Linked DNA regions of Homo sapiens. The protein of the gene in region 1 purifies or fractionates together with the protein of each later gene. This does not show direct contact. Each region holds a gene or a part of one and is shown in the gene's direction. Other genes may lie near its edges. The genes, in order: TMEM200A, GOSR1, PPP3R1, DDR1, ACVR1B, FHOD1 and AXL.

Region 1 (2,640 bases):
GGTAAGAGTTCTGGGCATCTTATGCCCCCTTTGCTCTCTGACAGCTCTGTGTCTGTCTTTGGCCTCTATCCACCTCCTTCCAAGACAACTGATGATAAGACCAGCGGCTCTAAGAAATGTGAAACCAAGTCAATTGTGTCATCGTCCATCAGTGCTTTTACATTGCCTGTGATCAAACTTAATAACTGTGTTATTGATGAGCCCAGTATAGATAACATCACTGAAGATGCTGACAACCTCAAAAGTAGGTCAAGGAATTTGTCAATGGATTCCCTTGTGGTTCCTTTGCCCAACACCAGTGAATCCTTCCAGCCCGTCAGCACAGTGCTACCAAGGAATAATTCCATTGGGGAGTCGTTGTCGAGTCAGTACAAGTCATCTATGGCTCTCGGACCTGGGGCTGGACAGCTCTTGTCTCCTGGGGCTGCCAGAAGACAGTTTGGGTCCAATACATCCTTGCATTTGCTCTCGTCACACTCAAAGTCCTTGGACTTAGACCGGGGTCCCTCCACTCTAACTGTTCAGGCAGAACAACGGAAACATCCAAGTTGGCCTAGGTTGGATCGGAACAACAGCAAGGGATATATGAAACTAGAGAACAAAGAAGACCCGATGGATAGGTTGCTTGTGCCCCAAGTTGCCATCAAAAAGGACTTTACCAATAAGGAGAAGCTTCTTATGATTTCAAGATCTCACAATAATTTGAGTTTTGAACATGATGAGTTTTTGAGTAACAACCTAAAGAGGGGAACTTCTGAAACAAGGTTTTAATGTTAAAAGAATATATCATTTTACAAGGGTATATATTTTAAAACGATTTTCACTGGTGTTTCCTTCTTAAAGTATTGGCTGTAAGCCTTTTTAATCAAATGGTTTGTAGTGTATTAGAATTGGCTGCTTAGTTCTGTAATGAAGATGGTTGTATGTTTGGGTTACTTGTGACTGCAGTACTCTATGTTACCACACATGATTTTATTTTTCTCTTCCTTTGAAAGCATGATCTCTTTTATTAATATGAATGCAAAATGCTTGCATCCAAATTAAAGCTTATTTTCTTTACTTTTAAGTTCTTTGATTGCCCTATTCATAAAATGAAATGTCCAGTATGGAAAACATAGGGTACCAAAGTGTGGACCAGGAGTACAAATTCAGTCCCAATACTCAATACGTATTATAGATGACTATGAGTGCAAACCTTAGGATGTGATTTTCTGAATAATTGTTCTTTGTAGGATTTGGTTACATTATTTAAAATGAAAAAGATCTAGTTTTAGTGTGAGCTCAGTAATGTTAATTGGTTAAGTTCATTGTGAATCTTGAGTTTTAGATAAGTAGTTATTTTTTTCAATATCACTTCTGTTTTTAGTGATATTATATCAAGAAACAACGTATTCAAGAGCCATGGCTGACAGTGCCAGATATACTTAGGGATAAACATCAAAATGCAATTATAGTTGCTATAACGTTAGATACTCGGAATCAAAATTTATTTGCAAGCTGACTTGATAAACTAAATGAACCAATAAAATTTGTAGAAATGCTATCCTGAAATAATTATATACATGAAGACAATGTTGACTAATGAATTAAGATACATTATATACTAGTTAATGCTAACTAGTCTCAGTACCTGTTTTTAGCCATCTGTTACTGTCCAATAGCACCTCATTCCCACATTCTATTTTCCCCCGGTATTCTTTAGATCCTAGTATTTGGAAAACAATCGGCTAACCTTGACATTTCTTTTTACCTTCATATGCCACTATCTCGGTAGTTCAAAAAAATTTAGTTCTTGATAAATTGCCTTGAAGTTTACCTTGTGCTGGAGAGCCTTATGATAACTCCAAAGACTTTCTTACGGTATAATACATGTTGTTTAGGATTGTGTTTCTTAGTCACTGAAGATAATAAATATTAAAATGGATGTTTTCATCAGAAAATTTTCATGTTTTCCTTTAAGGTAACATAATTGTAAGAATTGTTTAATAAAATACTCAGGAAATTCTAAAGGTTTCTCCCAATACCTAAACATTTCTGAACATCAGTATTGCAGTTGTGGAAGAGCAGAAGGAGGATACATTTGTTTGTGTTGCTCCCCAAAATTCCACCTTGCATTTGCATCACAAACTTCCCTCAATTGAGGCAGTTTTCTTTGTTAGAACATTAAGTCTGTGTATTGTAATAGAGTGGGCTCAATATTTTACTATAAAGCATTTAATAAACTGTTATTAATAGAAGTTTGTGTTCTTCACACCTTTGCTATTGCTTTTTAAATAAAATGTACATTTCTGCTTAAAGTACTGTTTTTCACACTTTCAGATATATTCTACTGAGGGCACTTGATACCCTAGTACATGTACTGAGTATCTCGGCTTTTAAATTTTGCTTCTATTCGGTTAAAGAGCTAGGTCTATCCACCTATTTAATTAGACTGTTTTTAAATTTTCTTATCTTGGGATCGTTTTCACTTAAAGTTTCATTGACTCTCAGGAAAATAACCAAATACAGCAAAAGTCAGCGGCACTCAGATTTGAAAACAGTGGCTGTCAACACCCCTGATGTGACAGATGACTGGAGCCATATAATTTGTTCAGTTCATCCCTGAAAGAGCTCTAGAAATTTGAAGAGGATTAAACAGCA
Region 2 (4,467 bases), on another chromosome or scaffold:
CAACAGCAGAATGGAGGGAACAGAGGAAAGACATACTTTCTGTCAGCAAATCTGAAGACAGAATAGTAGATAGTACCAAATCCGAATGATGGAAAATAGACTGAAAAAAAATTAGCATAACTTCAGAGCTATGTGGGACATTAACACAAGATCTAGCATTCACGTCATCAGACTCCCAGAAAAAGAAGAGAAACAGTATGAGACAGAAAAAGTATTGGAAGAAACAATGGTTGAGAATCCCCCAAATTTGGCAGAAGACATAAATGTCAGAATCAAGAAGCTGAGGATATCCCAAACAGGATAAATCCAAAGAAATCTACACCAAGGCACATCATAACTTCTGAAAACTAAAGAACAGTTCTTGAAAGCAGTGAGAGAGAAAATGTATTTTAGCTACAGTGGAAAAACAATTCCAATTTTAGTCAATTTCTTATCTGAAACTATGGAGGCCAGAAGGAATTGGCACATTTTTCAAGTGCTGAAGAAAGAAATTGTCAACTTCAGATTGTATATCTGGCAACAATATCCGATCCCCCAAGAATGAAGGGAAATCAAGACATTCTCAGATGAAGAAAAACTAATAGAATTTGTCACCAGCTGATCTACTCTTTAAAAAAAAAATGGCTGAGGGAAATTCTTGAAACAGAAAGGAAACGATTAGAAAAAGGAATCTTGGGACACTAGGAACGAAGAAGAGTAAAATATGCATAAATCAAGTAAGCTTTCCTCTTCTCTTGAATTCTCTAACTTATGCCTGACCCTTGAAGCAAATATTGTAACACTGATGTGGTTCTCCTCAATGAATGCAGAGGAAATACTTAAAAACAACTATATTATAAATGAGTGGGGGAAAGAACTTTACAGGAATTAAGGTTTCTACACTTCACTAGAATTAAGTCAGCACCGGTAGACTGTGATAATTTATGTATCTATAAAGTGTGGGTTTGGACAGCAGATTTTATCAGGTTGAGGGCTCAGGCCGAGAGCATGTAGAAGCAGTTAGCTCACTCTTTCTAGATGTGGCGGCTGACAAGGACAAAGAGGGCTGGGACTAGAACTGCTGTAGACAAGGAAAGCAGCCAGTGGAGAAGAGCGCATACGCCAAAGAACGTGGATGATGGAGCACAGGCGGGGAGGTAGGATGAAGGAAATGGCTCTGGGAAGAAAGGGTCTCTATGTCTGAGAAAGGAAGAAATTGGCTGAAGATACAAATTAGAGACAAGGTGAGGGAAATTGAGGGAGTTGCCTGAGGATGATTCTCCTCCCAGTCAAGTAGGCACCTGCTGAGAGAAAGGATAAGCCGAGATGAGGGAGATGATGATGGTTTGGGGCGCAGAAAGCGGGAATGAAAGACAGGAGCTAAAGCCGAAGTTTTTTCTCTCTCGCTACTTAAAAGCTGTAAGATAACGAATTGATCAGCAGGTGGCAGTGTCCGCGGAGGCTCGCATCCCGTCGGCCCTGGCTCTCAAGGCGGAAACACGCACCATGGTGACTTTCCGGCCTGCATCGCCTCTGCTCCCCTATCCCGGCTGACGTTGGACGACAAAGATGGCGGCAGGGACCAGCAGTTACTGGGAAGGTGAGGGCGAGAAGGCCTCCGGGTGCGTCCTACGAGGGTGAGAGGGGCTGAGTGAGGACAGATCTTGGGAGAAGCAGCACAGGAAAGAACCAGACTCCCGGAGCGGCCGAGCTGAGCAGCGGGGCTTGCCTAAGTGGGATCCCCGGGGCCTTGGGGATACCGAACGGTCTGGGGTAGGGGTCTGGCCTGGCCGGGGCGTGTGAGCGGGACGTGGGGCAGGGGTTGGGCAGAGTGGACAGAGCGGGGATGTAGAGGAAGAGGGCTCTCAATCGCCTGGGTAGAATTGTGTTGAGGGAGTAATGGAACTCGGACGAAGGGGCTTGGGGTACGAACTCTGAGAGGAAACGAATGTTGAGGGAGAAGATCCAGAGCCCCGGAGACTGGAGGAGTCAGCGCATTGGAGCTGAGGTCACTATTGGAAAACTGAGTGGGAAAAGAGAAGGAGGAACTTGCATTCCGGTCCGTCGGAGGAAGTATGAAGAGAATAGGAGACAGAATGTCTCTTATTGGGTCTCCATGACAACTACAGGTTGGGGACTTCCAGGACTGGGTGTTTGAAGGAGGAGAAAATAACTTACCCTTCTGCTCTAGAGTCTAGAATCGGTTTTATTGAAAAAGTTGAGAGAACCTGTGTGAATTGCAGTTACATTTGCTATACTTCTCCCACCAAAAAAACCTTCCTGTGATTTGACAAATGCATTTGTTTAATTCCTGAAACTATAGTCGGATAAAGTGAGCTTACATAAAACTCATTCGTGGATTATGATGATCAACAAGAGCAGAGAAAGCTCACCTTTTTCTCCCAACTGTCTCTTTGCTTTACAGCCGCATAGAAACTACTTTCCAAATTCCTTTGACCTGTTTTTATTGCTATACACTGAAGCCTCTAGAAACCACAGTATTGTCACTATCAGCCCCTTGGTCTAAGAAACTCAATTCTAAATTTATCCAGATTTGCCTATCATACTTTCAAAATGCTTTTACTTATGTTTCCTACTAGAGAAGACAATTATTCCAATCACAGAAAAGCGTGCTTATAGTTTAAAACATGTATTACAATGCCCATTTGAAATGTGTGTACCAGCTAGAAAACTTTTTTTTTTTTTTTTTTGGAGACTCGCTATGTCGCCCAGGCTGGAGTGCGGTGGCGCTATCGATCTCGGCTCACTGCAGCCTCCGCCTCCTGCGTTCAAGCGATTCTCCTGTCTCAGCCTCCTTAGTAGCTGGGACTACAGATGCATGCCACCACGCCTGGCTAATTTTTGTATTTTTAGTAGAGACGGGGTTTCACCATGTTGGCCAGGATGTTCTTGATCTCCTGACCTCGTGATCCGCCCGCCTCTGCCTCCCAAAGTGCTGGGATTACAGGTGTGACCCACCGCGCCTGGCCGCTAGAAAACATTTTAAAATTATGTAGAAGAGGCTACTGATATCTTTATTACTAGTCATTAGCCTGTGGTTTTTTGAAGCAGCATGCTATAATATTACAGCGGCTCATTACTGACAACCTACTCTGTGCCAGCTGCTGTAAGCATATGATTACCAATACATAAGCAAACCCTGAAGGTAGGGGTTTAAAAAACAAGAAGCTGAAGTTCATAGGTTAAGTAGATTGTTGATAAATCATAGAGTCAGTAAGTGGCTGTGCCGAGATTCGAACTGGCATTTGGTCTCTGGGCAAATATGCTCCACTATGTTAACTACGCTTTCTATTTCTGGTTGAAAAGCATATTGAAATAATGTTTTGTATTCTTTTTGAAAGAGAGATTCTTATACCATTACCTCTGGTACTTCTGCCCTTTTATTTTAACCTTCACTTCACCATGAATGAGAATACTCGTATCTGTGTGTGGGTGTCCAGACTGTGGCTTCTGTCACGCAACCCTTAGATGCCAGACTGCTAAACCAATTTCTCTACTTGCCTGTTTGCTTCTGCTATTAAAACTTATGTACTTATTTCTATCATACTCATATTCGACCTTGTTAGTAGCACATTGTTTATTGTTAGTTTTAGCCCTCCAAATTACTTTCAGTAAGTTTTTTTCTTTTTTTTAGATGGAGTCTCGCACTGTCGCCCAGGCTGGAGTGCAGTGGCTCAATCTCCACTCACTGCAAACTCTGCCTTCCAGTGCCTTCCAGGTTCACGCCATTCTCCTGCCTCAGCCTCCTGAGTAGCTGGGACTACAGGCGCCCACCACCACGCCTGGCTAATTTTTTGTATTTTTAATAGAGACAGGGTTTCACCGTGTTAGCTAGGATGGTCTTGATCTCCTGACCTCATGATCCGCCTGCCTCGGCCTCCCAAAGTGCTGGGATTACAGGCGTGAGCCACTGCGCCTGGCCTCAGTAAGTTTTTTAAAGGCGGTTTTTGGCCAGGTGCGATGTCTCATGCCTGTAATTCTAGCACTTTTGGAGGCCCAGGCAGGAGGGTCACTGGAGTTTAGGAGTTCGAGAGCAGCCTGGGCAACATTGTGAGAAAAAACAGAAAAGAAAAAAAGAAAGAAAAAGGCAATTTTTGTGGTAACTTTTTTTCTTTATGTTCAATTGAGAAGTCATTTTGGTCCGGGCGTGGTGGCTCACACCTGTAATCCTAGCACTTTGGGAGGCCAAGGTGGGTGGATCACTTGAGGTCAGGAGTTAAAGACCACCCTGGCCAACATGGTGAAACCCCGTCTTTACTAAAAATACAAAAATTAGCCAGGCATGGTGGTGTGTGCCTGTAGTCCCAGCTACTTGGGAGGTAGTTGAGGCATGAGAGTTGCTTGAACCCAGGAGGTGGAGTATGCAGTGAGCCAAGGTCATGCCACTGCACTCCAGCCTGGGTGACAGAACGAGACTCCATCTCAAAAAAAAAAAGAAAAAAAAAGGTAAGTCATTTTGCTATTATG
Region 3 (3,864 bases), on another chromosome or scaffold:
ATAGTTTTTTTTTTTTAAACACTTTAAACAGATTCCATTGTTTCCTGTCCTTGGTGTATCTAAGGAGAAATATGCTGTAGTAATTATGTTGTATGTATGTAGTTTATCTTTTTTCCCCTCTGATTATATTTAAGATTTTCTGTGTCACAGCAATTTATTATGTGGCTTTTTTTTTTCCATGTTTCTTCTACTTAGAGTTCATTGAACTTCTTGAATTTGGGGATTTAAAGTTTTCATCAAATTTGGAAGATTTGGGGCCATTATTTCTTTAAACAGCATATAAAACGTTTTATTGATGTGAAATTCACATAACAAAGTCATTTTAAAAGTGAACAGTTCAGTGACATTTGTTTATTTATTTATTTACAAAGTCTTGCTTGGTTGCCCAGGCTGGAGTGCAGTGGTGTGCTCAAGGCTCACTGCACCCTTGACCTATCAGGCTCAAGCAGTTATCCCATATCACCCTCCTGAGTAGCCGAGACTACAGGCATATGCTAACATGCCTGGCTCGTGTTTTTGTTTTTATTTTTGAGGTGGAGTCTCGCTCTGTTGCCCAGGCTGGAGTGCAGTGGTGCAATCTCTGCTCACTGCAGCCTCCACCTTCAGGTTCAAGAGATTCTCTTGCCTCAGCCTCTCGAGTAGCTGGGATTACAGGCACCCGCCACCATGCCCAGCTAATTTTTGTATTTTTTGTAGAGACAGATTTCACCATGTTGACCAGGCTGGTCTTGAACTCCTGACCTCAAGTGATCTGCCTGCCTCGGCCTCCCAATGTGGTGGGATTACAGGCGTGAGCCACCATGCCTGGCCTTTTTTGTATTTTTTGTAGAGACAGTGTTTTGCCATGTTGCCCAGGCTGGCATTTATAATGTAGTACAACCACCACCTCTATGTCATTCGAAAATATTTTCATCACCCTAAAAGGAAACCCCATAGCCAAAAAGTAATTGTTCACCATTCCTCCTCCCCCAGCAACTGGCACCCACCAGTCTCTACATTCTGTTTCTGTGTAACTGGCACCCACCAGTCTCTACATTTTGTTTCTGTGTATTTTCTTTATCAGTATATTTCATATAAATGGAATCATAAAATGTGGCCTTTTGTTTTTGGCTTCTTTTACTTACCATGATTTTGAAGTTCATCCATTTTATAGCGTCCTATTATGTTTTATATTGGATGTCATACATACATTGTGAATCTTATGCTGTTGTGCTAGATTTTGTTTTATTCCTTTAAAGAACGTAAGAGTTTGTTTTGCCATCCACTTAAGTTACTGAGACCCAAATTTGATCTGAGATTTGTTTTCTATCTTTCTTAAGGTAAGTAAAGAACAGCCTTTAATTCATGGCCAATATAGTCGTTCTGAGGACTGGACCCAATTCCCTGTGTATTTACAAGTTTCTCCAGTTTGGCCCATGGGATCATGAACTATTCCTAGCTCTGTGCAAACTCCCAAAAGTTATTCAACCTGCTACTAGTTCTTTTCCTGGACTTGGGGAGTTTCCTCTCAAACTTATGCAGAGACTGGAGGAGACTTTTATGCAGATCTCCAAAGTTCTCTCATGTGTCTCCCTTTTCTGAAGTACTCTTCCTCACAAGTCTCACCTCCTTGGCCATACGAACTTCATGTATCTCTGACTTCTCAATTTGGCGATGTCTCGGGATTGTGTTTCTGTTCTCTGTTCCTGTGCTGCAACCTGGAAACTTTCTCCAGACAGTAAGCTGGGACATAGATCCTAAGGGCTTTACCTCTTTTGTTTTCTTATATAGATGATCACAGAAAATGCCTGATAAATGTTGTTTGATAAAATTTTTCTGATTTACTAGTTTTTTTTAACACTGGTCAAGTGGTTCATATAGCATTTCTCCCCCATGGGCAGATGTTACTGAATTTTTAAATCAGTATAGTGTAAGGGGAGTCTATCTTGAACTTCAGGCAAATGGATTTATTTAAGGACCTCATCAACAAGTGATCTTGTCAGTAACTTGGTCATGTGGCATGATGTTTGAATTCTTCAAGTGTTCTTATGTAAACTTAAAACATGTTAGCTTTAGGACTTTTTTCATATTTAGATATAATTTTATGGTTTTGTTTAGTTGAGTGGTTCTCTTAGAAGTAAATGTCAGTACCTTATTGGGTATGTCTCTCACAGTATCTATCATTATTTTAGTATTTCCCAACCCTAGACTGGAGCTATTGGCTACAAATTCACTGCAGAATTAATTTACCTTCAGAAATGCTATTTTTTCCAGTTAAGTCTGATATAATAATTTACAAACTGATGTGTATTTTTTGTTAAATGTAATTATGCATTAGGTTCAGGGATCAATAAACTATAGCCCACACACCAAACCTGAATGAAACAATTACTGATAAATGTAATACTCCCAGGTAGTAGCTTAAGAAGCTGAACGTGAGGGGGTGTGGAGAGGAGTATAAAGGGGAATCTCCAAAACTCCTGTTTTTACTAATGACTAAGCATGAGGAAGACTGAACGTGGAACAAAATTATATTGACCATATTGACAAAATTATCTTTATATTGCCATGTTTTGCTTTGGTTTCCTTTTTTAAATGGAAGGTAGACTATGAAGACATTCTTGCTGTGAAAGTTCAAACAATACAGAATTTGAAGTAAAAAGTGGGGAGTGTAGGATAGAGATGGTGGTGCTGTTTGGGAGAGTGACTACAGAGATACGAGTTCTCTTAATTAAAGGACTTTACTTAGCTTTCTAAAGAGTGTTGGTTTTTATTCTGAAGGCAGGTGGGAGCTATTGAATTTTAGCAGAGATGTGATGTGGTCAGTTTGGGACAGATTGTGGTTGCAGTAGTGTTTTGGATATATGCATTCCAAGTTTAGGAGCAAGACGAGTTATTCTTTGTTAATGGGAAAGTCCTTAGGAGCCCTGGACTGGTTGGTTCTTAGGTCTTGTGGACGTTGTCTAGTTGGGAATGATACAGATAAATAGGTGAGATAGATGGTATCATTTAGAAAGAATTGATAACACTGTAAAGGTCAGTGAACTGGAGAAACAAGGACCTGGTTTTAAAATCCTGCTTGAAACCACCACATAACACTTTTTTACCTTCACTTATAAAACAGTAATGATACTTATTTAAAAAAAAAAAAACTCACAGTGACAGTGCAAATTTTAGTAAATAAAATACCGGTATGCTCTTGAGAGTCTTGCAAGAAACATACTTAACTTTAAGGTGGAGTGGAATAAGGAAAAAAAAACATTAAAAAAATTAAGACAGCAAGAATATGTAAGGCAGTGAAGATAAGAATCATGGTAAGAATATTAAGATCAATTAAGTAATGTGCAAAGTAAGCAGAAATCCATCTCTGTTCATTAATATCAAGCTTTATTAATGTTTGCTTTCTTTTATCCTCACTTTAACATATTTGATATTTAAAGTGACCTAATATTAAATTAACCAGTTCTGGAAAATTGCAATTATCTGCTATAACTTGCAAGAAAAAGACTAGCTATTGGCAATATGTCAGTTAATTGAATGTGGTAATTTACTGATTAGCCTTTAAGTTTACATAAGATTAAAGGTACGTTGAGGAGTTTAAAAGCCAGCCAGTCATACTAAAAAAAAGAATTCAGGTTTTCAGTAGCTTCTGAAGATATATATTTAAATATGCCCATGTTAATTGTACACTTAAATTAATAGCAACTGTATACTTACTGCTATTTAATTGCTAGGCAGGGTCAAGGTTAGATAAATAGAATATAGGATGCTTCGTATTCAATTTACCACTGAACTTTAAAAACTTAATTTATATTACTTTAAATTCTGTAGACGTTTTTAAAGACCTTAATGATTCTACCTCTGAGTCTGTTATACTACTTGAGA
Region 4 (4,311 bases), about 100 Mb from region 1:
TAGTGCTTTTGTGTACTTGTCTGGTTGGGACTTCGTGTTTCTTTCTTGGGATTGTTGTCTGGGACTGCAAGCAGGGTATGTTTTTATCTACTGTGAGGTTCCTGGGGCGGAGATGTGCAGTGGAGCGAGAACTTCCTGTGACCGTGACATTGTCTAGGTGGTGAGCAGGTGTGGGGGTGTGGAGAGAGGTGAGGGGCTGAGGTAGTGCTGAGTGGGGAAAAAGCACCTCCCACCACAAGCTGTTCTGTCCCGCTCCATCCTCTGCCCAGTAGCTCTCTCAGTTGCTTTGCCTACTCAGTCTCACTGTTTCATCTTCCCTGGGTCTCTTGGTCCCCTTCCTTTTGACTGTGTGTGATTTTCAGTGTGCCTCCATCCTTCTCCTGCTCCTCTTCTTCCTCCTCCCGACCACTCAACTTTGTCCTGGCCTCATTTTTGGCCTCTTCTGGCCAGTGATCAGACCCTCTGGCCCACTACGGCCAGAGCTGGCTGGGCCTGAGGGAGGCTTGCCCTGAGGACTCCTGAGTCCCCCTCCCACTCCACTCCGTTGGGAGCCCAGGGGAATCAGGGCCTGGGCGTCTGGACCCCCGGGTCCCTTAGAACGCCCTTCAGAGAGAGGAACTGAGAGGAGAAGGAGAAGAGAGTGGGCCCGCCTTCAGGGTCTGGGGCCTTCCAGGTTGGGTCGTAGGGGCGGGAGCGCACAGGCTGCGAGAGAGGAGCAAAGGTTGGTGGAGGGAGAAGAGCAGTCTGGGGCCTGGCTGGACAGGTGAGCCCTGAGACCTGAGCTCTGCTCCCTTCTCTGGGCTAACTCCCGCAGCTGGGCTGGGCCGAGCCTGTGGGAACCTGCTTCTTCCTCTGTGCCCTGGGGCTGCTCCCCTTTGCCTCTCCCACCAGGAACCGATCCCAGAAGTAGGAGGGGCGTCTTCCCCTCGTGGGCCCTGAGCGGGACTGCAGCCAGCCCCCTGGGGCGCCAGCTTTGGAGGTTCTCGTTTGGGGAAGCGGGGGTGGGCTGCGAGTGGGTGGAGGGGGCTGGGCGCGGAGCCGGCCGGAGGCAGCGGCGCGGGCGGCTGGGCGGCCTGGGAGCGCCCAGGCGGGCTTGGCGGGCGGGTTACCTGGGGGAGGCCGGGCCGGGCGCTAGCGCGCGGGGTGGGCGTGGCGGGCGCGGGGCCTGGAGCTCGGCGCCGGGCGTGGGAGCCACTGGGACTACTGGGTCCGGGAGGGGGAAGGGAGGGCTGCGAGCCCGAACGCGCGGCGAGAAGGCCGAGGGGAGGGAGGGGAGCGAGGAGCGGGAGGAGGAAGGGAGGGAGCCGAGGCGAGGGGGAGGCGGCGCCTGGGCCCGAGCCGCCCCAGCCCTGGCTCCTCTCCCCGGAACAGGCCCCCGACAGCTGCTCTCGGGAGCCGCCTCCCGACACCCGAGCCCCGCCGGCGCCTCCCGCTCCCGGCTCCCGGCTCCTGGCTCCCTCCGCCTCCCCCGCCCCTCGCCCCGCCGCCGAAGAGGCCCCGCTCCCGGGTCGGACGCCTGGGTCTGCCGGGAAGAGCGATGAGAGGTAGGGAGAGCGGCGGCGGAACCCGCGGGCGGAGGCCTGGGGCTCTTGGGGTGGGGGCGCGCGGCGGCGCCTGCAGGGCGAGGGGCGGGGGAGGCAGGACGTCCCGAGCCATGCTTGGTCGTCCAGCTCTTCTAAGCCTCCCTGCCCGCCTCCCCGATGCTCTGGCATACCGTCTGAAAACCGGGGGCGGGGACTGGGTGGAGGTGAAGCCCGTGACCTCCCAGAAAGAGTTTTGAGCCTCCAGCCTTGAGGCAAGTCCCCTCTCACTCAGTGCGGAGGAACTGAGCCCCGGGAGGAGGTGCTCCTGTGCAGCCCCACTGAGTCAGCTCATCTATCGCCTGCCCTCCACCTGGCCAGTCCCTGCGGGCATCTAACTGCTAAGCCTCCGCTCAGCCAACACCCAGTTGGTCAGTCTGGTCACAGTCCAGCAAAAAGAGGGACTGCCACTCTAACCCACCAGTGACACCACTCTTCCCGGCTGGATGGTCAATTAGCTCTGGCATGAGAGAATGTCACTGCCGGTGAGCGCCAGCTTCAGGGTCCCACCCCCCCATGCCTGGCTCTTGGCTGAACATTTCTTCCCAGCGCTTCCAGCAGCCAGAGGCAGGCGCCCAAGCTCGCTGGCTGTTGCTGAGGGCCTGTAGGTGTGTCCAGGACTGAGTGGTGTGGTGGAGACAGGTGAAAGGGGAGTGAGTGGAAAGGCAGGGAAAGGCTGTTGTCCTTATTGCCACTCTTCCCACCCAGCGCCCACCTGTTCCCTGCCCCCTCGACGTCCCTCTGGCTTGGTCACCCATGTGTGTTAGAGGCTGGGCCCCAGTTCTCTGGGGATCCTGTGCCCAAGGGCCCGGGTGTGTGTGTCTCATGCTGTCTTTTGGTCACAGGAGCATGTGGTGTCTGTCATTTCATGTTCACAGGTGTCTGAAGGTGGCTATTCACTGAGCGATGGGGTTGGACTTGAAGGAATGCCAAGGTGTGGACGGGTTGATGTATGCATGAGCTTCTGTGTTTGCTCTGTCTCAGAAACTCTGTGAGGGTTGTCAGGGACACTGAGAGGTGGGTGTGTGCATGCCACATTTAGCCTCGCTGTTTACAGCCAGTTCAGTAAGTTTGTGTGTTTCACCGTGTGTGTGTGTACAGAGCTGTGTGGGTGTTGTCTGAGTGGGACTTGGGGGTTGGGAGAGGAGCGTGAAGGGCTTGAGGCAGGGTGGCCTGGCCCCTGGTTTGTCTTTGGTTGTAATGGAGTGGAAGGGGGTGGGATTGGGGAAGGTCTTCTGGGCTTGTCCTCTCTTGCCCTCTGGGTCTCTGACTGTGGACTGAAGACCCAGTGGAGAGAGATGAGGTGACTGGGGGTGTTGGAGAACAGACAGCCCAGACGTCTCTGTGCTTCTCCGTGTTCCTCTGCTTGGCTCTGTGCCCCGTGTTTCTGAGCCTGCTCTATTTACCTCTTGCATTGTGGCTCTCGCTCTGTCTCCGCCTGCCTCGTATCCTCTGCCTGCCTTTGTATCTCTGCCCCGGGCTCCTCTCGGCTCTGTGTGGCTCTGATGACTCATCTGGGATAGGCATGAAGGTTACTTAGGGGAACAAGAGCCCCGCTGTTCCCGAGAGAGGTGGGGTTGGAGAGCGGCACCCAGGAATTCCAAGCCAGTCTCCTGGGACTCTGGCAGCCTGCTCCCCGGCGCTGGACCCTAAGGGACCAGGCGTGATGCCTTCTGGTTCTAGCCTCTGAGTGCCCCCCACAACTCAGTCGTCCCCCTCAGCTGCTGCTTCAGAGCTCTGGGGTCTCAGCTGCCTCTTACATTCCTGCCCTAGTGCATTGTGGGAGCAGCTGGAGGAGGACAAAGGGATGGGGGAGTATCCCCCACTCCTCCTACCTCCTGGGGTGACCTGCCTTCCTTGTCTTTAGACCCGCCCTCGTCTCCAAGGCAACTCAGCCTTTCCTCAGTCCCTCAGAGGCAGCCACCTTCTGGAAGTGGGAACTGGGGGGACTGGATGTCTGGGTCTCAGGAAGGCAGAGCAGGGATAACTGGGCCCAAGATGCCCTGAACCTGATAAGAGGTGGCAGTCGAGTCCCTCAGGACTCCAGGGCCTGGAGACTTCAGTACAGGGCTCTGAGACCAGTACAGGTTAGGATAGCTTTTCCTGCAGCAGGGGAGGGGAGAGTAGTTACTTGGGTTTGTAAGGAGATGCCATTTAGAATAGTTTTATGTGGGGTAAGCTTCCTGGGCCTGAGGAACAGAGTAGGGATTTTCAAACTTTAATGGGCACAGGTCACCTGGGAATTGTGTTAAAAGGCAGATTTTGATTGAGCAGGTCAAGGGTGAGCCTGAGATTCTGATTTCTTCCATGCTTCCAGGTATTGCTGATGGTCCAGGGACCACCCTGGGCCTAGAGGGCTATAGGGGACAGTAAGACTAGAAGGTGCTGGGGTCCCCTCTGCCCTTCTCTTAGAATTCTGGACTCCTATGTGGGAGGGCAGCAGGGTGAGCTGGTCCAGGCTTATCTGATGTTTAATTCTATCATATCCTCAACAAGGAATTGCCCAACCTTTCCTGGGACATATTTATTTTTTAAAAGTCAAAATGATTTTCATATTCTTTTACATATCTTATGATTTTACATAAATGCATTTATGTTACAAGATTTAGAAAAATAGTACAATCAACCTGTCTTTTTAAATTTGCTTTTCTTTTGCCCCGTTCATGTTAACTCTTGTTATATTGTATTCTATTGTTATATTCTATTATATATTCTCTCCTTCTAGACGTAC
Region 5 (3,864 bases), on another chromosome or scaffold:
ACACAAGTTAGTGAACACATCTGTCACCTCACCTTGTTGCTTGTGTGTGTAGTGAGAGCAGTTGAGACCTACTGTTAGCACATTTCAGGTGTACAGTATTGTTGACTCTAGTCACCTTGCCGTCCATTAGAGCCCCAGAACTTACCTAGTCAAGTAGAGAGGTTGGCTCTGCCTTTAACGAGTCTAACCACTAGAGGGCATTTCTGCATTTCAGAACAGAATTGCATATTAGCTGATGCTTTCGTGTTGCATCATAGAGCAGCACTTCTCACCGCACTCCTTGGAACCCTCAGGGCAGGGTTTGCTTCAGAGGGCAGGTGAGACCAAAAGAGCTGGCCGTTAGCTGCAGCGTTTGCCTTTCACTTGTGTAAGCTGTCCCTTAAAAAGGAAGAGCCGCCTGGCGCGGTGGCTCATGCCTGTAATCCCAGCACTTTGGGAGGCCGAGGTGGGCAGATCACAAGGTCGAGAGAGCGAGACCATCCTGGCCAACCAATATGGTAAAACCCCATCTCTACTAAAAATACAAAAATCAGCTGGGCGTAGTGGTGTGTGCCTGTAGTCCCAGCTACTGGGGAGGCTGAGACAGGAGAATCACTTGAACCCGGGAGGCGGAGGTTGCGGTGAGCCAAGATTGCGCCACTGCACTCCAGCCTGGGTGACAGAGTGAGACTCCTTCTAAAAAAAAAAAAAAAAAAAAAAAAAAAAAAAAAAAAAAAGGAAGAGCCAGGGAACAAAGGGAGCCTTGCAGAGCATTTCCCTAAGGTCGGCCGCCGGGTGGATGTGGATCTGCCAGACTGCACTGAGCGGGAGGTGGCAGGGAAATGAGTGAGAGCCTAGGGACCAGAAAGGCTTCTCCAGGGCATGACCGAGCTGATGGCTCCTGGGTCTCTGCACAGGCACTGCGGGTGATGGGGAAGATGATGCGAGAGTGTTGGTATGCCAACGGCGCAGCCCGCCTGACGGCCCTGCGCATCAAGAAGACCCTCTCCCAGCTCAGCGTGCAGGAAGACGTGAAGATCTAACTGCTCCCTCTCTCCACACGGAGCTCCTGGCAGCGAGAACTACGCACAGCTGCCGCGTTGAGCGTACGATGGAGGCCTACCTCTCGTTTCTGCCCAGCCCTCTGTGGCCAGGAGCCCTGGCCCGCAAGAGGGACAGAGCCCGGGAGAGACTCGCTCACTCCCATGTTGGGTTTGAGACAGACACCTTTTCTATTTACCTCCTAATGGCATGGAGACTCTGAGAGCGAATTGTGTGGAGAACTCAGTGCCACACCTCGAACTGGTTGTAGTGGGAAGTCCCGCGAAACCCGGTGCATCTGGCACGTGGCCAGGAGCCATGACAGGGGCGCTTGGGAGGGGCCGGAGGAACCGAGGTGTTGCCAGTGCTAAGCTGCCCTGAGGGTTTCCTTCGGGGACCAGCCCACAGCACACCAAGGTGGCCCGGAAGAACCAGAAGTGCAGCCCCTCTCACAGGCAGCTCTGAGCCGCGCTTTCCCCTCCTCCCTGGGATGGACGCTGCCGGGAGACTGCCAGTGGAGACGGAATCTGCCGCTTTGTCTGTCCAGCCGTGTGTGCATGTGCCGAGGTGCGTCCCCCGTTGTGCCTGGTTCGTGCCATGCCCTTACACGTGCGTGTGAGTGTGTGTGTGTGTCTGTAGGTGCGCACTTACCTGCTTGAGCTTTCTGTGCATGTGCAGGTCGGGGGTGTGGTCGTCATGCTGTCCGTGCTTGCTGGTGCCTCTTTTCAGTAGTGAGCAGCATCTAGTTTCCCTGGTGCCCTTCCCTGGAGGTCTCTCCCTCCCCCAGAGCCCCTCATGCCACAGTGGTACTCTGTGTCTGGCAGGCTACTCTGCCCACCCCAGCATCAGCACAGCTCTCCTCCTCCATCTCAGACTGTGGAACCAAAGCTGGCCCAGTTGTCCATGACAAAAGAGGCTTTTGGGCCAAAATGTGAGGGTGGTGGGTGGGATGGGCAGGGAAGGAATCCTGGTGGAAGTCTTGGGTGTTAGTGTCAGCCATGGGAAATGAGCCAGCCCAAGGGCATCATCCTCAGCAGCATCGAGGAAGGGCCGAGGAATGTGAAGCCAGATCTCGGGACTCAGATTGGAATGTTACATCTGTCTTTCATCTCCCAGATCCTGGAAACAGCAGTGTATATTTTTGGTGGTGGTGGGTTTGGGGTGGGGAAGGGAAGGGCGGGCAAGGAGTGGGGAGGGAGTCTGGGGTGGGAGGGAGGCATCTGCATGGGTCTTCTTTTACTGGACTGTCTGATCAGGGTGGAGGGAAGGTGAGAGGTTTGCATCCACTTCAGGAGCCCTACTGAAGGGAACAGCCTGAGCCGAACATGTTATTTAACCTGAGTATAGTATTTAACGAAGCCTAGAAGCACGGCTGTGGGTGGTGATTTGGTCAGCATATCTTAGGTATATAATAACTTTGAAGCCATAACTTTTAACTGGAGTGGTTTGATTTCTTTTTTTAATTTTATTGGGAGGGTTTGGATTTTAACTTTTTTTAATGTTGTTAAATATTAAGTTTTTGTAAAAGGAAAACCATCTCTGTGATTACCTCTCAATCTATTTGTTTTTAAAGAAATCCCTAAAAAAAAAAATTATCCAATTGAACGCACATAGCTCAATCACACTGGAAATGTTTGTCCTTGCACCTGAGCCTGTTCCCACTCAGCAGTGAGAGTTCCTCTTTGCCCTGAGGCTCAGTCTCTCTCGTATTTTGTCCCCACCCCCAATTCCTTGAGTGGTTTTTGCTCTAGGGCCCTTTCTTGCACTGTCCAGCTGGTTGTACCCTCTCCAGGCATTTATTCAACAAATGTGGGTGAAGTGCCTGCTGGGTGCCAGGTGCTGGGAATACATCTGTGGACAAGACATGCTTGGGTCCTACTCCTGGAGCACTGTAAAAAGAGCTGATTCAAGTAAGTAGATGCCTGTTTTGAGACCAGAAGGTTTCATAATTGGTTCTACGACCCTTTTGAGCCTAGAATTATTGTTCTTATATAAGATCACTGAAGAAAGAGGAACCCCCACAACCCCCTCCACAAAGAGACCAGGGGCGGGTGATGAGACCTGGGGTTTAGAACCCCAGGTGAGACCTCAAATCACTGCATTCATTCTGAGCCCCCTTCCTGTCCCCAGGGGAGGTGTATTGTGTATGTAGCCTTAGAGCATCTCTGCCTCCAACCCAGCAGTTCTCTGCCAAAGCTTGTGGAGGAGGGAGAGCCCTGTCCCTGCCCTCAGGCTCCCCAGTGCTCCTGGCCCTTCTATTTATTTGACTGATTATTGCTTCTTTCCTTGCATTAAAGGAGATCTTCCCCTAACCTTTGGGCCAATTTACTGGCCACTAATTTCGTTTAAATACCATTGTGTCATTGGGGGGACCGTCTTTACCCCTGCTGACCTCCCACCTATCCGCCCTGCAGCAGAACCTTGGCGGTTTATAGGTAATGATGGAACTTAGACTCCTCTTCCCAGAGTCACAAGTAGCCTCTGGGATCTGCCAACACACGTCCACTCCCAAGCCACTAGCCCACTCCCCAGTTGGCCCTTCTGCCCTTACCCCACACACAGTCCAACTCTTCCACCTCTGGGGAAGATGGAGCAGGTCTTTGGGAAGCTCCCACACCCACCTCTGCCACTCTTAACACTAAGTGAGAGTTGGGGAGAAACTGAAGCCGTGTTTTTGGCCCCCCGAGGCTAACCCTGATCCATAGTGCTACCTGCACCTCTGGATTCTGGATTCACAGACCAAGTCCAAGCCCGTTCTTACGTCGCCATAAAGGCCCCCGAACGGCATTCTCGGTACTTCTGTTTGTTTTTGTACATTTTATTAGAAAGGACTGTAAAATAGCC
Region 6 (4,408 bases), on another chromosome or scaffold:
CCCTCCCGGCACCGCACGGCCGCCGGCCCCGCGTCGCCGCCGCCACCTACCGGGCGCCCCCGCGTCACAGGCACGTGGGGCCCGCTCCCCCCAATCCCGGCTCCGATACCCCCAAGCCAGGTCCAGGCTCCGAGACCCTGCCTCGGACTCTCGTAGTCGGGGACTCTCTCCTCTTTCCTCCCTAAATCAGTCCCAGCTCCGGAAATTCCCCAGTGCAGCTCTCCCCCAAGTTCCACAACCTACTCCTTCGAGTCCGCGCCCCCAAACCTCCCCAAAACCGCCCCCACCAGATCCAGAGCGGTGCGCGGCCACGGCCCCCCTGGGGCAGCCCGCAGCGGGAAGGGCGGGGGTCTGCGGGGGGCGCGGTCAGGACGGGAGGGGCACGGCTCCTCCTCGGCCAGCGCTGCTGTGCGGCGAGCAGCACCCCCCTGGGACCAAGGCGCGGCCGGGTGCAAAACGCAGGGGACCGTGCTTGGCCGCCCTCCGCCCACGTTGCCAAGCCCAGGACCCCCTGCCGGCCCCCACCCGGACCTGAGCTGCGCACGCGCACTGGACGCTCCCCAAAGCAGTGACGGACAACGCTGCCCCCAACGTCCCAGAAACCCTAAGGCCCAGACTGGCCCAGCTCGTGCCAGGCGAAGAGGGAGGCTGTTCTTCATCTCCCAAACCAAGGGGCACCTGGCCCTCCCTTTCAGTCACACTACAGAGAACTGTCTCATCTCTTTGATGAAGCTGACAGGAACCTATGGAAAACCCAGCCTACTGATTCCCTTCAAACTAGGCGAGATGCACCCAACTTTTTCCAAATCTGAGGGGCATTCGGCTCATAGCGCCCCAAACAGAGGAGGACCGTCTCCACTTTTCATTCAGGCTGAGGGGCACCCATCCCACTTTTTCTCCAAAACTGAGGGGAACGTGTTCTATCTGCCCCCTCAAACTGACTCCTCCCAATCTTTTCCCAGAAAACTGAAGGGCATCCTTCCCTCTTCCTCCCACAACTAAAGGGAACTGATCCCACCTCTTCCTTCAAACTGGGTGGAATTTATTCTCACTTCTTGCTCCAAATTGAAGGGACCCCCTCTCACTGCTTTCCCTAAATGAGGAAACCACAGGGACTCACCCCTCAAATGGAAGGAATGAGGGCTATCTTGTCCCTCAACTGAGAGAGACCTGGCCGGCCACTATCTAAAGAAACTTCTGCCCCATCTGCCCTAACACCCCTCAAAGAGAACGCAGCCTCACTATCCCCAGACCAAAGAAAGCCTCCCCGCCTTCTGCGCGTTCTCGAAGGTGGGGCGCGAGCTCGGTTTTTCCCGCCCTCCTAGCCAGTGAACTAACGGGATTCCCATTGGGCCCTGTGAGTGGCTAGCGGCGGCCCCGCCTCCGGCAGTGGTTACCTCCTGGCGCGCACTCGGGGACTAATCTTGGCTCCACCCCCTTCCTCGGCCCCGCCTCCGTCTGGCCCCGCCCCTCCAGCCGCGTCCGGTCCGGCCGGGCCCGAACCGCGGAGCTACAGTGTGCTTTGAGTAGAAGCTGCACTGGGGCCGGGACTCGGAGGCGCGCTGCGTGAGCCGGCCGCAGAGCCATGGCGGGCGGGGAAGACCGCGGGGACGGAGAGCCGGTATCAGTGGTGACCGTGAGGGTGCAGTACCTGGAAGACACCGACCCCTTCGCATGTGCCAACTTTCCGGAGCCGCGCCGGGCCCCCACCTGCAGCCTGGACGGGGCGCTGCCCTTGGGCGCGCAGATACCCGCGGTGCACCGCCTGCTGGGAGCGCCGCTCAAGGTGAGGGAGGCCGGAGAAAGGTTGGGGCGATCGGGGGTTCAGGGTGGGCGCCATGAAAACTGGTGGGAGGTGCTCCGCGGGAAGAGGCTGGAGCGAGTGTTCTTCTCCGGAAAAGTCTTGGGCTGGGGTCCCAGGGTCCACTCTGCCCCGCCTGCGGGGGAGTCCCCTCTCAAGTTGAGGGGAAACTGAAGAGGGGTGCCAGGAACTTGGCTCCGCCATTCTGACTGCCCTTCGAATTAGGCGCACCTGGGGAGGTGCTCGAGTTCCACTCGCCGTCGGTCTGCCAGGGTGGCTTCCCTGGTCAGAGTGACGGTAGCCGCTTGGGCTGTAGCGGACCCTGGAGGCGGAGCTGGGGAGGGACCAGCTTCCACCTGCTTCAGGTGAGGTGGGGGCGGGACCACGAGGAGGGGCGGGCCCGAGGCGGACTACTAGAGGTGGCAGAGGTTTCCTGCGGTGTCAGGAAGCTGGATTGGGGCTTGACCCTGTAGGTCAATGGGAGTATGGGAGTGCCGGCCGAGGAGAGACTTCACGGGGTGAGGGGAGTCCCCGCGAAGCGGTCTGGCCCGGGATCCGCAGAGCGCAGGAGGCTGCACGGGTGTAAAAGCCCTTTGAGTCACCGCTCCCGCCCCCACCCCCGGACACTCGCCGCCCATCGGCCCGCGCCTGAAAGTGAGAGGGAGGGCCGGACTAATTTTAAACAGCCGGCCTGCCCTACTTTGCTGCCGCCCCGAAGCGGACTTGTGCACAGTGCGGAAAGAGGCCCTTTTCCAGATGGCCAGCCTACCTCCTCTCCCCTCCCTCTCGCCGCCGTCAGCCCCCCGCAGGCAGCCCTTTCCGGCGCGCTGTTTCCGGGCCAGGACTCTGGGAGGCGCACTACCACCTCCACAAGCTCCCCACCAGCCCGGCCGCCTCCAGTGCTGGAGAAGAGGAGAGAGAGTCGGGGTGGGTGCCCTCCCCTGCTCCCAGCCTCAGCTGGGCGGCGAGTTGCGTAAACTTGCCCCTTGGGCCTGGGGTCTTCCCTGGAATGTGCCCCGGGCCCCCAGCCCGCATTCCTCGCGCTGCGGCCAGCCCCGCCTCTGAGCGCTGGCGGGAGGGGTGGTGAGACTATTGGCCTGGAGAGTGGCACGTGTCCAGGCCAGAACCCCGGCTTCAAGGCCATGGCTGGAAGGATGCAGGACACTGCTCACCGCCAGTTTTGACTCAGCCCCCGCTTCTCTTGCCCTATTCAGAGGGGCAAATTGAGGTGTGCCTGGAAGAAGCGTGTGCAGCTGGAGGCCACCTCCCATTCAGGATGGGGGCTGGGAAGACAGGAGTGCTGAACTAAGACTGGTTCCCGCTTCCAGGCTCCTAAAGTCCGGATCCTGAAATAAGGGTGGGGCACTAGAGAATATATTGTATTCCTCTCATCCTGCAACTCAAGGATTGGACCTAGCCCTGACACCACCCCCCCGATTTTTTTTTTTTTAAGACGGATTCTGGCTCTGTCTCCCAGGCTGGAGTACAGTGGGGCTATCTTGGCTCACTGCAACCTCCACCTCCCGGGTTCTAGCAATTCTCGTGCCTCAGCCTTCCAAATAGCTGGGATTACAGGTGTGCGCCACCATACTCAGGTAATTTTTGTATTTTTAGTAGGGACAGGGTTTCTCCGTGTTGGCCAGCCTGGTCTCAAACTCCTGACCTCAGGTGATCTGCCTGCCTAAGCCTCCCAAAGTGCTGGGATTAAGGCTTGAGCCACCATGCCCAGCCCCTTGACACACCTCTTCCCAGCTGGGGGCAAGCCTGGGAAGTCAGCTGCAAGAAAGAGGCTCAGAACCACTCCTTCTATCTCCCTCTCATGGGACCCGTGTCCCCACCCAACCCTACCAGGTGCTCTGCCCTGTGTTCCCTGCTCCTTAGCTGAGGACACTACTGAGCTCCGGTGAAGAATATAAGTTCCTCATCCCCAATGCAGTCCTTCCTGGTCTCCCCGATTTCATGTTCTCCCACCTGGAGTACCTGAGGACTGCCTTCCCTCCCCCACAGGGATATGGAGGTGGCACACTAGGTTACCACAATGCCAGAAGCCAGGATTCCCTGGGGCTAGCAACTCTGCCAGGAATGGTCAGATGCACTGTGATGTGCTCAACCCAAATATAAACTATGACCACAGCCCCAGAATAGAAGGCTGGAGGAAGAGGGGCTGAGAATAGGGCAGAGACAGGGACATCAGAGAGCTGAGCAAGGGGGAGCAGGGCCCCTCCTTGCAGGAAATGTCAACAGCTGGTTCCTCCCGTAGTCCTATAAGTGGGTGCCCCAGAGTCACAGACATGACTCAGGCCTGTCTTGCTGGCCCTCTAGAGGGAAGAGGTGGCCCAGAAACCAGGGCATCCCTGTCCCAAGCTGTAGGGCAGAAATAAGAGGAAGGGGTTCTTTACTCATTGCTTCGTCCTATGTACAGTTGTCCAGCAGAGGACAGGACACAGCCAAGTGGCCTCTGTCCTCCTCTGGGTACTGGCCCCGGGTACTGGCCCTGATCATCCCAGCAGATGACCCCCCTCCCTGGGGATGTACAGAGGCCAGCCTGCTTTCTCCCTGGGACTCCACCCACACACCCCATTGGGCCGAGCCTAGCCCCTAGAGTTC
Region 7 (3,864 bases), on another chromosome or scaffold:
ACCACTGCGGGCAGAGCTAGGCTTGCACAGAGGGATGGAGGGAGGAGGGATCGCATCAAGGACTCTGTTGACCTCTCCTCCCACCTGCCTTGGCTCCCCAGTACCTGCCCACTCAGATGCTAGTGAAGTTCATGGCAGACATCGCCAGTGGCATGGAGTATCTGAGTACCAAGAGATTCATACACCGGGACCTGGCGGCCAGGAACTGCATGTGAGTGCCTTTCAGGGACCCCCCCCCCCCAACTGCTCCTGCACTCCCTGAGGGAGTTCCCTCCCTCCTTCTTAGGATGGAAGCAGGGCTAGACACCCGCTGAGGGCAGGTCAGAACTCAGGACCAGGAAAGTCAGTAAGGGGGTCTGGGAAGGCTTCCTGGAGGAGGTGAGTCCTGAACTGAGATCTGGAAGGAGCATTTGGATGCGGAGAGGGAAGAGACCAGAAGGTGGGCTCAGTGCACAGCATGAGGTGAGCAAAGGGGCTGAGGTGACCGATGGGGGTGGGGACACGTGAGCTGCATCTCTGTCCCACTCCATGCTGGGTGTCTTGCCTGGGGCTGCCCTTTGGAAGCGGCCACACTGGATAAGAAAATCAAACTCCCCACCAATGGACAAGCAGAAAATATGCCAGATGGGGTGCAGTGGCTCACGCCTGTAATCCCAGCACTTTGGGAGTCCGAGGCGGGTGGATCACTTGAGGCCAGGAGTTCGAGACCAGCCTTGGTGAAACCCCCTGTCTACTAAAAGTACAAAATTCAGCCTGGTGCGGTGGTGTGCGCCTGTAATCCCAACACGAGAATTGCTTGAACCCAGGAGGCGGAGGTTGCAATGAGCCGAGATCGCATCACTGCACTCCAGCCTGGGCGACAGAGCAAGACTCTGTCTCAAAAAAAAAAAAAAAAAGAAAGAAAGAAAGAAAGAAAGAAAAAAGAAAATAGTAACCTGTAGTCCCAGCCATTCCCAAGGCTTAGGTGAGAGGATTGCTTGAGCCTCGAGACCAGCCTGGGTAACAACAACGAGACACCATCTCAAAAAAAAAGAAAAAAAGAAAAGAAAGAACAAAAAATCCCCCAAAAGCCAGAATAGAGGGTAAGGGGAGGGTAGAAGGTGGAGGGAATGGAACCACAGAGTTAGAATATTAGTCTTGGCCAGGCGCAGTGGCTCACATCTATAATCCCAGCCCTTTGGGAGGCTGAGGCAGGAGGATCACTTGTACCCAGGAGTTCAAGACCAGCCTGGGCAACATAGTGAATCCTGTCTTTACAAAAAATAAATTAGCTGGGCATGGTGGTGTATACCTGTGGTTCCAGCTACTTGGGAGGCTGAGGTGGAAGGATTGCTAGAGCCCAGGAGGTTGAGGCTGAAGTCAGCCATGATGGTATCACTTCACTACTGCCTGGGCAACAGGGCAAGATCCCATCTAAAAAAAAATTGATGTATATTTTACATACACTAAAATATACACATGCAGCTCAGCTCGATGAATTTTTATGGGTATAGACCCATGTAACCACTAGATGAAGGTAAAGAATATTTCTTAGCCCCAGCAGGCTCCTTCATGCCTCTTCGTCTTCCCAATCACTACCGCCAAGTGGTACCCACTATCCTGACTTCTCAGTGCTAGTTTAGCCTGTTCTGAAAAGTCATACAAATGGGATCATGCAGTTTGTACTGCTTTGTGTCTGGCTTCTATGGCTCAGCATGATGTTTTTGAGATGGATCTGTGTAGGGGTAGTTTGCTCTTTTTCTTTGCTGTGTGGTATGGTATTCCATCATATGAATGTCCTGTGGATTTTCTTTTCTTTTTTTCTCTTTCTTTCTTTTTCTTTCTTTTCTTTCTTTTTCTCTCTGTCCTTTCTTCTTTCTTTTCTTTCTCTTTCTCTCTCTTTATCTCCTTCCTTCCTTCCTTCCCTCCCTCCCTCTCTCTTTCCCTTTCTTTCCCTTTTTTTCTTTCTTTTCTTTTTTGTTTTGACAGAGTCTTACTCTGTCCTTTAGGGTGGGGTGCAGTGGCATGATCATAGCTCACTGTAGCCTCCAACTCCTGGCTCAAGCTATCCTTCTGCCTCAGCCTCCTAAGTAGCTGGAACTACAGACATGTGCCACCATGTCCAGCTAATTTTTAAATTTTTTTGTAGAGACAGGGTCTTGCTTTGTTTTCCAGGCTGGTCTTGAACTCCTAGCCTCAAGTGATCCTCCCACCTTGGCCTCCCAAGGTGCTGAAATTACAGGCTTGAGCCACTGTGCCTGTTTTTTTTTTTGTTTGTTTTTGAGACGGAGTCTCACTCACTCTGTTGCCCAGGCTGGAGTGCAGTGGCGTGATCTCAGCTCACTGCAACCTCCGCCTACTGGGTTCAACTGATTCTCTTGCTTCAGCCTCCCAGGTAGCTGGGATTTCAGATGTGCACCAACACACCTGGCTAATTTTTGTACTTTTAGTAGAGACAGAGTTTCACCACATTGGCCAGGCTGGTCTCAAACTCCTGACCTCAAGTGATCCACCTGCCTTGGCCTCCCAGAGTGCTGGGATTACAGGCGCCAGCCACCATGCCCAGCCATGTTCTGTTTCTTAATCTGGGTGCTGGTTACATGGGTGTGTGTGTGTGTGTGTGTGAAAATTCAGTGAGCTGCTTACTTATGACTTGTGCACATTTCCATATGTACAGTATACTTCAAGAAAAAAAAATTTCATCAAGGAATCAAACCCAAGGAAGGACCTTAGAATCTAGCAAAGAGCCAAAATTGGGAAGTCCTGAGGAAGCCCTTTGTCCCATCCTCACTTGACAGAGTGAACAAGAAGTAAAGCAGTTCCCTTCTGGACTGGGATGAAGGTTTAGGAGACAGATCCCCACCCGCAGCCAGGACAGTGAGGGGAGGAGGTGCAGATGTGTCTGAGAGCCAGGGCAGGCTTCCTGGTGGAGGTGACTGATGCCCTGACCCTGTTCCTTTCCCCAATCCAAACAGGCTGAATGAGAACATGTCCGTGTGTGTGGCGGACTTCGGGCTCTCCAAGAAGATCTACAATGGGGACTACTACCGCCAGGGACGTATCGCCAAGATGCCAGTCAAGTGGATTGCCATTGAGAGTCTAGCTGACCGTGTCTACACCAGCAAGAGCGATGTGGTAGGTGCACTCCCGCCAAGAGTGGGGAACCATGGGAGGGCATGGCCTGACCATCACACACTATGCCTGGGTGGCTGTGGATGCAAGGGTCACAGGGACATGTGGGCTTCCCTTTGCAGGGGCTTGTCCACATGGGCTGGGCATGTCTTGGGGTATGGTGGGCATCTCTGAATAGTGGTGTGTACATGCCCAGGATAAATACAGGCCCACGTGTGCATGGTAGCAATGTAGACAGTTTAGGTTAGAAGAAGCTGCAGTGATTATGCGTGCATGTGCGCACACTCATAGAATGTGGACAGCCAGGGTGTGCAGAGTGGCACATGAGCTCATGTGTCCATGAAGTGTGTATATGTGTGTGATGGTGAGCATGTGTATGCATCCACAAAAGTTACTTATTCATGTGTATACCCGTGTCAAGTATTTTTTATATATATATATTTTTCTTTTTTTGAGATGGAGTCTCGCACTGTCACCCAGGCTGCAGTGCAATGGCATGATCTCAGCTCACTGCAGACTCTGCCTCCCGGGTTCAAGCAATTCTCCTGCCTCAGTCTCCCGAGTAGCTGGGATTACAGGCGCCCACCACCATGCCTAGCTAATTTTTGTATTTTTAGTAGAGACGGGGTTTCACTATATTGGCCAGGCTGGTCTCAAACTCCTGACCTCAGGCAGTCCGCCCACCTCAGCCTCCCAAAGTGCTGGGATTACAGGCATCAGCCACCGCACCCGGCTAAAGTATTATGTTTCTAT

The links.
Region 2: the proteins of TMEM200A (region 1) and GOSR1 purify together in Homo sapiens (affinity purification with mass spectrometry; 2 studies listed by BioGRID and IntAct, with this or other methods). This does not show direct contact.
Region 3: the proteins of TMEM200A (region 1) and PPP3R1 purify together in Homo sapiens (co-immunoprecipitation; 3 studies listed by BioGRID and IntAct, with this or other methods). This does not show direct contact.
Region 4: the proteins of TMEM200A (region 1) and DDR1 purify together in Homo sapiens (affinity purification with mass spectrometry; one large-scale study listed by BioGRID and IntAct). This does not show direct contact.
Region 5: the proteins of TMEM200A (region 1) and ACVR1B purify together in Homo sapiens (affinity purification with mass spectrometry; one large-scale study listed by BioGRID and IntAct). This does not show direct contact.
Region 6: the proteins of TMEM200A (region 1) and FHOD1 purify together in Homo sapiens (affinity purification with mass spectrometry; 2 studies listed by BioGRID and IntAct, with this or other methods). This does not show direct contact.
Region 7: the proteins of TMEM200A (region 1) and AXL purify together in Homo sapiens (affinity purification with mass spectrometry; one large-scale study listed by BioGRID and IntAct). This does not show direct contact.

What each region holds. Positions count from the first base shown.
Region 1 is NC_000006.12:130,441,128-130,443,767, forward strand, and holds the end of TMEM200A (transmembrane protein 200A), read left to right. Parts: coding exon 1-771; 3' UTR 772-1,940; downstream 1,941-2,640.
Region 2 is NC_000017.11:30,475,886-30,480,352, forward strand, and holds the start of GOSR1 (Golgi SNAP receptor complex member 1), read left to right. Parts: upstream 1-1,522; 5' UTR 1,523-1,548; coding exon 1,549-1,579; exon of another isoform or gene 1,580-1,927; coding exon of another isoform or gene 1,928-2,108; intron 2,109-4,467. UniProt on the Homo sapiens protein: Involved in transport from the ER to the Golgi apparatus as well as in intra-Golgi transport. It belongs to a super-family of proteins called t-SNAREs or soluble NSF (N-ethylmaleimide-sensitive factor) attachment protein receptor.
Region 3 is NC_000002.12:68,217,996-68,221,859, reverse strand, and holds part of PPP3R1 (calcineurin subunit B type 1), read left to right. Parts: intron 1-3,864. UniProt on the Homo sapiens protein: Regulatory subunit of calcineurin, a calcium-dependent, calmodulin stimulated protein phosphatase. Confers calcium sensitivity.
Region 4 is NC_000006.12:30,883,167-30,887,477, forward strand, and holds the start of DDR1 (epithelial discoidin domain-containing receptor 1 isoform 2 precursor), read left to right. Parts: upstream 1-1,352; 5' UTR 1,353-1,544; intron 1,545-1,813; exon of another isoform or gene 1,814-2,053; coding exon of another isoform or gene 2,054-2,065; intron 2,066-2,117; exon of another isoform or gene 2,118-2,222; intron 2,223-2,458; exon of another isoform or gene 2,459-2,514; intron 2,515-4,311. UniProt on the Homo sapiens protein: Tyrosine kinase that functions as a cell surface receptor for fibrillar collagen and regulates cell attachment to the extracellular matrix, remodeling of the extracellular matrix, cell migration, differentiation, survival and cell proliferation.
Region 5 is NC_000012.12:51,993,089-51,996,952, forward strand, and holds part of ACVR1B (activin receptor type-1B isoform a precursor), read left to right. Parts: intron 1-896; coding exon 897-1,022; 3' UTR 1,023-3,864. UniProt on the Homo sapiens protein: Transmembrane serine/threonine kinase activin type-1 receptor forming an activin receptor complex with activin receptor type-2 (ACVR2A or ACVR2B).
Region 6 is NC_000016.10:67,244,588-67,248,995, reverse strand, and holds the start of FHOD1 (FH1/FH2 domain-containing protein 1), read left to right. Parts: upstream 1-1,514; 5' UTR 1,515-1,585; coding exon 1,586-1,786; exon of another isoform or gene 1,787-2,557; coding exon of another isoform or gene 2,558-2,728; exon of another isoform or gene 2,729-3,158; intron 3,159-3,254; exon of another isoform or gene 3,255-3,396; intron 3,397-4,408. UniProt on the Homo sapiens protein: Required for the assembly of F-actin structures, such as stress fibers. Depends on the Rho-ROCK cascade for its activity. Contributes to the coordination of microtubules with actin fibers and plays a role in cell elongation.
Region 7 is NC_000019.10:41,253,498-41,257,361, forward strand, and holds part of AXL (tyrosine-protein kinase receptor UFO isoform 1 precursor), read left to right. Parts: intron 1-101; coding exon 102-211; intron 212-2,954; coding exon 2,955-3,114; intron 3,115-3,864. UniProt on the Homo sapiens protein: Receptor tyrosine kinase that transduces signals from the extracellular matrix into the cytoplasm by binding growth factor GAS6 and which is thus regulating many physiological processes including cell survival, cell proliferation, migration and differentiation.